Linked DNA regions of Homo sapiens: regions 2 and 3 are each linked to region 1. The links come from fine-mapping of genetic effects on gene expression. A gene starts in region 1. Each other region holds a variant in brackets. All regions are shown on one strand. Distances are from middle to middle. Region 1 holds the start of PICALM (phosphatidylinositol binding clathrin assembly protein). Region 2 has its middle 51 kb from the start of PICALM. Region 3 has its middle 4.5 kb from the start of LINC02695.

Evidence for each region. PIP is the estimated chance that this variant, and not a neighbour inherited with it, causes the effect. A credible set is the group of variants that fine-mapping cannot tell apart.
Region 2: its variant is the best candidate, but not a certain one, in a credible set for the expression of PICALM in fibroblasts (GTEx, PIP 0.66).
Region 3: its variant is the best candidate, but not a certain one, in a credible set for the expression of PICALM in whole blood (INTERVAL, PIP 0.83).

Annotation. Positions count from the first base shown.
Region 1 is chr11:86,067,964-86,070,728 of GRCh38, forward strand. It overlaps PICALM (phosphatidylinositol binding clathrin assembly protein), which reads right to left and starts at 1,121. Exons shown (of 20, transcript NM_007166.4): 1 at 688-1,121. The coding sequence starts at 817. It overlaps LOC124902731 (a long non-coding RNA gene), which reads left to right and starts at 1,961. Exons shown (of 2, transcript XR_007062823.1): 1 at 1,961-2,765. RefSeq lists enhancers at 1-469, 470-1,171, 911-2,110 and silencers at 736-785, 856-905, 1,046-1,215, 1,366-1,635.
Region 2 is chr11:86,119,127-86,121,891 of GRCh38, forward strand. No RefSeq gene overlaps it. Among named protein-coding and RNA genes, the nearest start is that of PICALM, 51 kb to the left of the region's middle. The variant C/A (reference allele first, on the strand shown) is at 1,373.
Region 3 is chr11:86,187,623-86,190,387 of GRCh38, forward strand. No RefSeq gene overlaps it. Among named protein-coding and RNA genes, the nearest start is that of LINC02695, 4.5 kb to the right of the region's middle. The variant G/C (reference allele first, on the strand shown) is at 1,580.

The sequences.
Region 1 (2,765 bases):
ACTCCCACAAAGAAGGTAATCTGAAATAAAAGTCGGGTAACTGGGTATGGTATTTAAAATGAGTCGAAGAAACTACACTGAAGCTACTATAGAGGCGATGAAAAGGTAACCCAAAAGCAGGAGGGAAGGTGGAACAGAAAGCCAGGAAGGGATGGGCGAAGCAGCTAGTGGAGCAAAGGAAGTGGGGGATCCCTTCCAGGGAGGCAGCCCGGAGGGATAACAAGGATCTGGATGCAAGGAACCAGGCGTTTACTGAAACCCGAAGGAGGCTGATGAAGAAACAATGGGGCTTGGAGACGCTCAGACGAGGGCGACGAGGCGGCACCGGACGGGTGGGAAGGAAGAGCAGAAGGCTGCAGTGGAGACGGGTAGGGGGTGAGAAGCCAGGTGGGGAAGCAAGTTGGTTGGGTATGATGGGGTGTGGTAGCGCACCGGGCAGGGAGACGAGGGTCCCCTAGGAATAGGGAGGGGAGTGGCTTGTCAGATTTTGAGACGGGGAGCGGAGGCCGTGAAGGCAGGTGTGATGGAAGCAAAAGAACACAGCTCAACGGGCACAGGACCGGCCGTGCCAGAGAAGACGCAGGGAGGGAAGAGGCAGTAGAAGGGTGAAAGACAAGAGAGAGAGAGAAGGACGCGCGCGGGTCGCGCGGGCGCCGGGGAGCGGGGGCCGCGGTCGGCTTCACTCACAGTCCAGGTGCTTTTTCTTGGGCCCCATGATCTCGTGGGTCGTGGCCTTGCATACTGTCTTGGATACGGCAGAGCCGGTGACACTGTGCTGGGCGGCAGTGATTCGGTCCGTCAGGCTCTGGCCGGACATCTCTGCAGCTCCTCCACCACCCCACCCGCTCAGCAGCCGGCGGGGACTGGGACCCCCAAGAGCCGGAGGGTCCCCACCCCCCACCGCACCCCCTACCCCCACCGGCTCCTTCCCCGCCTGCCGGCCTGGGGCGCGGTTCGGGGCCGCGCGCTGCCACCAGTCCAGAGAGAACCGGCTCGTGTCACCCGCGGAGTCGGACAAGATGTCGGGCACTCCCTTGCCCCCGCCTCAGTTCAGCCCACCCCTTCCCGGGTCAGCTGGAGCCGGGCAGGGTAAGAGGAACAGGCAGCTGCAGGAAAATGGCGGCGCCAGGCTCCTCCTCGGAGCTTTCCGGGCTGCCCCGGGTCACGTGACTCGGACACCGCCCCTCCTCCCTTCTCCCGCCCCTTTCCCCTTCCCTTTCCTCTTCGACGCCCGCCCTCCCTCGCTCAGCGAGGGAAGAGCTGGGCGGCGCCCGCGCGTTACGTGATGGAACTCGCCAGGCGGGCGCAACAGGAGGCCCGCCCGAGGGGAGTGCACAGCCGGCGCATCACGTGACTCTCCCTGCCAACAGGTCGCCTGAGGCTCGGCCCGCGGGGTCACAGACGCCGGGCGGGGCGGGGCGGGAGAGGAATGGCGAGGGCGGTGTGCTGGCGGGGGTGGGGCGGGGCGGCAGGCTTCTCCCCTTATCCCCCCACCTCAAGTGTGTCCTCGTGTCTGTGGTTGAAACCAACAGCTTGACAAAGGAGGTGCAGCTGCCTTCACAGCTTCCCCTGAAGTGGGGGGTATTAGGCCTCTGGCTCCCCGAGCTTTCCCAGCAGAGTCAAGAATGTATTTCAAGACGCCTCCCAAAGCCGCCCTCCTGGCTTAAAGGAGAAGGTTCCAAACGGCCTATTTTCTGAACCTTCCAGCAGGCCTCTCTCTACCATGGAACTATTGAAGCTCTCCTTATTTACTTACCCCAGAAAGGTTTTTTCCCCCCTTTCCTTGAGAGGCTTGGAAATGTCACCTGGTTTTGTTTATCTCTACTCCGAAAACCCGACACGTTGCTGCCATTCTAAATTTAGATACTAGCTGGCCGGTATTCATTCTCTAGGGTGTGGAATAGGACAGGAAACACATAGCTTCACTGGAATTTGAAAAGGGAAGTAGTAGGATGATGTCAACAGCGATTAGCTTGACCCTACATGGCTGACTGCTGTGGTGATTAAAGGTCCAGACCATAGAAGGAAGTGAGAGGGGCGGTAAATGGAGAAGTCCCATTCAAACAGTCCAGACATCACTGCCTGCCATCTCCCCTGGTTTAGTCTTTCTTACCTTTGGCCTCTTTTCTCTTATTGGGTGAGCCAGATTTCCATGGAAAGACGTTGACACTGCCCTGTGGACATTTTAAAAGAAGTATTACATCCTGAAATACTATTCAATGAGACCCAGACCATACATTAACAAAGCCTTTTATATGTTATTAGAGCCTCTACATTCAACCCAGGGTTAGGGATAAGTTGAAAAATATGTGAGTGCTAAGTTACCATGATAGTCACATGTAATCTTGCTAGTTTCAAATGAAATGCTAACATTCTCAGAAAGTCTGTGTACACCATCTGCCAGCCAAATCCAAAATACTGTGCTTCAATCTGGTGACTCTCAAAGGATGCAAAGCTGATAGATATTTAACATTTTATGTATCATATCAGGAATTTTGTGGTCTCCCATTTTCCCCACGCCCCCTCACCCCTCTTTTTTCCCCACTATGGCTGGTGAAATTCTGCAGCAACATGCTCTTGCCAAGAACACACAAGTTTTTAATCCCAGCAGGCTTCATCTTTGTCAAGCCAGCCTCCAATTTCACAAAACTATAATGAATTCCTTCAGTGTACTGCAATCCATCTGTGGTTTGGTGCCCAGTTTGCTGCCCCACGTCCACTGGGCAGTGGAATTACCAAATTCTCAAGACATGTTATCAGCCATC
Region 2 (2,765 bases), 51 kb after region 1:
CTTTAAAAAATCTAGACCTAGTTTCCATTATGCAGACAGCCCAGGCACAGAAGCCAACCAGTATTTTAAGACTGCAATGTTTACTAATGGATGTCTGGCTAGAAACAGTGTTGGCAGAATCCTGGCAGAGGCATTTACTCTCACTAATGATGTGGAACAGGGCTGCATAATTATGTCCACTTGTATTAAGTCTACCTAAGACTGTGATGTTTTGTAGTGGAACCAGAAACAAGCATCCCAAAAACTCCTGGGATTTTCCTGCAAGAGGCATTACATCAGAACTGGTTCAAGGCCAGGCACGGTAGCTCATGCCTGTAATCCCAACACTTTGGGAGTTCGAGGTGGGGGATCACTTGAGGTCAGGAGTTTGAGACCAGCCTGGCCAACATGGTGAAACCCCATCTCTACCAAAAAAGACAAAAATTAGCTGGGCGTGGTGGCAGGTGCCTGTAATCCCAGCTACTCGGGAGGATAAGGGGGGAGAATTGCTTGAACCCAGGAGGTGGAGGTTGTAGTAAGCCGAGACCATGCCACTGCACTGTAGCCTGGGCGACAGAGTGAGACCCTGTCTCAGATAAATAAATAAATTAATTAAATAAATAAATAAATAAATAAATAAAATTTTAAAAAATCATAAAGAACTGGTTCAAACATTCTCACAGTCTTTGCCCAGCCATTGATTTCATTTAAGGCCTTCTTCACAAAAATGACTTCACGGAGTACAGAGATCAGAATGCTTAGCAGAAAATTTTGGGACGTAAAGACAGTATATACCATACATGGACTATCCCAGGCCAGGAAAAACCTATTAAACATTTCCTTGGAAACAATATGAGGTACTTTTCTTGCACATATACAAATGTAGAAGGACACTTAATCTATCCCCTGCTCCCTGCTCCAGGAAAGCTATTGAAGTTATACATCATCATTTTCTTTCCTAGCTGTACCTGGGACTAGAAGCATCAGCAGTTATTCATCAGCAAGAAAGAAGGACAATTACATTCCTTGGGACTGCCTGGACACTATTCTCATGGAGAGTAATTTCTGCCTACTAAAAGAGGTAGATTCCAAACTTAGGTACGTGAGAAATCATTTGGTATTTAATAGAACTCAAGTCATCCACATAGCCCTAGAAAATGATAATTAATAAGGAGCTATGCATTGAAAATGAATAACAGTAAGCCTTTAAAATGAAAACCCTTAGAATAAAGGAATAGCTGTTGTTATTATTATGTTAGTATTACTTAGTATTAAAAAGGTCAAGATAGTGTCATCAGATTTCTTTTCCATCTACATAATTCCTAGACCTCCAGAGAATCTTCATGTCATTTTCTGAAATGGAATGCTGCTTCAAAAATTTTGGAAATAAACC[C/A]TAAAACGAGGACACTAAAGAAGCATTGATTTTTGCAAATTACTATTAAATAATATCTTTATCCCATATTAATAATTTAACCACAATGTTTGTCAAATAACCTAAAAATTTGGCTACTTTAGAAAATATCCAGTATCATCTGAAACCAAATATTAGGGTTTCAAAAGAGTTGGAACTTGGATCTGGGGTAAGAAAAAGTACCATGTCCCTGCCTGCCTCCCTTCCTTCCTTCCTCTCTCTTTTCCTTTCTTCTATTCATCCTTTCTTTTTTCATACTTCTGGCCTTTTGGTGCCCCTTATCTATATCTAGGGTAACATTTCAGTGGAAGAGATTCTAGAAACAAACAATGTGTGGCATTCAAATATAGAGAGTTATTTGCAAGGCAAGATGTAGTTTCTGCCACTCATATGAATCCTCTGTCAAGATGTTTGTCCCTCAGTTGTTGATGCAGATAGTCAAAGATTATCCCTTTAATCTTTAACATTGTCAAAGTTAATATATACCCTTTACTTTTCAACACTGTCAATGTTAATATAAACCTTTTAATTTTTAACATATTCAAAGTTAATATAAACCCCATTAATGCTTCTCAGGTGATCAAACACAGGAATGATCACTATGAACTAGTTGTATCAGTAGTTTTTCCATTCGGTAGCTGGTACATATTTGGGGGTATGATATCGTCAAAAGTCATAGTGATAACTGCCCTTAGTTATAGTATTTTTAATACAAAATAATATCACCTTTATTATTTCATTTGAGACTCCCATAGACCACTGCTTGCTACTCCAGAAACTGTTCCCAATTGTGTCTGCCATTTCATGCCCTCTCCTGAGTACTGCTGCTCCCTCTCCCCTGAGTTTTATTCTCTACTCCTTCCTTTATCCTTTTAAGTATAGTTAACACAGGCTATTATGTTTAACACACTGTACTAAATGTATTAGTTTCTTAGAGCTATCATAACAAAGTACCACAAACTGAGGGGCTTAAACAACAAAAATTGATTGTCTCTCAGTTCTGTAGTCTAAAGTCCGAAATCAAGAGGTCAGCAAGGGTATTCCATTTGAGGACTTTCTCCTTAACCTGTAGATGGCTATATTCTCCTTATGCCTCTAACATCATCTTCCCTTTATACTCTCTGTGTTTTTGTATCCCAATTGCTAGTCCTATAAGGATGTCAGTCATACTGCACTAGGGTCCAGCCTAATGACCTCTTTTAAACTTGATTATCTCTGTAAAGACCCTGTCTTCAATTAAGGTCACCTTTTTTTTTTTTTAGATGGAGTTTCACTCTTCTTGCCCAGACTGGAATGCAGTGGCCCAGACTGGAATGCAGTGGCACAATCTTGGCTCACTGCAACCTCCGCCTTCTGGGTTCAAGCGATTCTCCTG
Region 3 (2,765 bases), 120 kb after region 1:
TGAGGTAGGAACTAATACCTGTATTTTATAAATGAAAGAACTAAGGCTCAAACAAGGTCACATGGTTAGAAAATAACAGGATGAGGAGGAATGGAACCAGGCCTTTAGATTGCAGATCTGGTGTCTTTCTGTTATACCTTCACTGACTCCCAGTATCTTCCAGCCTTTGTTACTTTATAAAAATATAGATGCATACAAAGCAGTGACTAGTTTGTGCTTTTCTTTCCTTTCTTTTTTTTTTTTTTTTTTTGGTTGAGATGGAGTTTTGCTCTTGTTGCTCAGGCTGGAATGCAATGGCACGATCTTGGCTCACTGCAACCTCCACCTCCCGGGTTCAAGCAATACTCCTGCCTCAGCCTCCCGAGTAGCTGGGATTACAGGCATGCACCACCACACCCGGCTAATTTTTTTTGTATTTTTAGTAGAGACGGGGTTTCTCCGTGTTAGTCAGGCTGGTCTCTAACTCCTGACCTCAGGTAATCCACCCACCTTGGCCTCCCAAAGTGCTGGGATTACAGGCGTGAGCCACCGCACCCAAGTGTGTTTTTCTTTTCTTTTTCTTTTTTTTTTTAAAATAGCTTGGCTGGGCGTGGTGGCTCACACCTGTAATCCCAGCACTTTGGGAGGCCAAGGCGGGTGGATCACGAGGTCAGGAGATCGAGACCATCCTGGCTAACACAGTGAAACCCCGTCTCTACTAAAAATACAAAAAATTAGCCAGGCATGGTGGTGGGCGCCTGTAGTCCCAGCTACTCAGGAGGCTGAGGCAGGAGAACGGCATGAACCTGGGAGGCGGAGCTGGCAGTGAGCCGAGATTGCGCCACTGCACTCCAGCCCAAGCAACAGAGTGAGACTCCGTCTCAGAAAAAAAAAAAAAAAGCTTTATTGAAGTTTTTGTATGTATGTTATATATTTCTTCATAAAATTTACCCACTGTAAACATACCATTTAATGATTTTAAAAAATTTTTGTAATAGCTTTATTGGGATATAATTCACATACTATACAATCCACCCACTTAAAGTGTACATCCAGTGGTTTTTGGTATATTCACAGAGTTGTATAACCATGACCACATCAATTTGAGGACATTTTTAGCATCTCAAAAAGAAACCCTGTACCTTTTACTATCACATCTGAATCCTCCCTCATAGAAATGGTTTTATATAACATGTGGTCTTTTGTGACTGCCTTCTTTCACTTAGCATAATGTTCTCAAGATTCATCCATGCTGAAGCATGTACCTACTTTATCCTTTTTATGGCCAAATAATACTCCATTGTGTAAGTATAGCACCTTTTGCTTATCATTTTATCAGCCAATGGACATCTGAGTTGTTTCTACCTTTTGACTATTATGAGTAGTGCTGTTATGAATATTTGTGTACAAGTTTTTGTGTGGACATATGTTTTCATTTCTCTTGGGCATATACTTAGGAGTGACATTGTCAAACGATAACTCTATTTTTAACTTTTTGAGGAACTTCCAGGTTGTGTTTTCGAAAGTGGCTGTACCATTTTATATTCCCACCAACAATATATTGAGGGTTCCCACTTTCCTATGCCCTCACTGACGCTTA[G/C]TGTGCTTTGCTTTTTTCACTCAACATTATTTCATAGATATGTTTCCATGTTCACTTGGTTATCATTTTTAATGGTTACACAGCGTTCCAAATCAGTTAGTTGGATATTATTTAAAAATTACTTTAAAGCTCAGGACTTGGATTGTTTTCATTTTGTGCCATTATAAATAGTGGTACTAGAATCTTCACTGCTTACTACATTTTTCCTTTAGCTTATGTCCTTGAGGTATGTTCCAAAGTGGAACAAAGGGCACATACAGCTCATGTACTGCTTCCCTGGTTAGTCTGCAGAAGAGTTGACTGTACCTAAAATGCTATCAGCAAAGTTTGCACTTGCCTTCCTCTCCACAGCCTCTGCCAACATAAGGCTTTGTTGCTTTATTTGTGTATATTAATGATATAGTTACTGTATTAGTCTGTTCTCACACTGCTAATAAAGACATACTTGAGACTGGATAATTTATAAAGAAAAGAGGTTTAATTGACTCACAGTTCCACATGGCTGGGGAGGCCTCATAATCATGGCAGAAGGCAAAGGAGAAGCAAAGTCATGTCTTACATGGTAGCAGGTAAGAGAGTTTGTGTAGGGGAACGCCCATTTATAAAACCATCAGATCTCATGAAACTTACTCTCTCCCATGAGAACAGTATGGGGGAAACCATCCCCATGATTCAGTTATCTCCATCTGGCCCGGCCCTTGACACATGGGGATTATTACAATTCAAGATGAGATTTGGGTGGTGACTGAGCCAAACCATATCAGGTATAGGTACATGATAGAATCTTATTTTTTATTTTTATTTTGAGACAGAATCTCACTCTGTTGCCCAGGCTCAAGTGCAGTGGCACGATCTTGGCTCACTGCAACCACTTCCTCCTGGGTTCAAGTGATTATCCTGCCTCAACCTCCCCAGTAGCTGGGAATTACAGGCATGCACAACCACATCCAGCTAATTTTTGTATTTTTTAGTAGAAATGAGGTTTCAGCATGTTGGCCAGGTTGGTCTCAAACTCCTGGTCTCAGGTGATCTGCCTGCCTCGGCCTCCCAAAGTGCTGGGATTACATGTGTGAGCCACCACACCTGGCCTGAATCTTAACAATCTTAGGCTGTTTCGATTTGTATTTCTTTCATTGTTGGTGAACTCACAATATTTTAACAGCCATCAGCTGTTACTCTAAGCCAT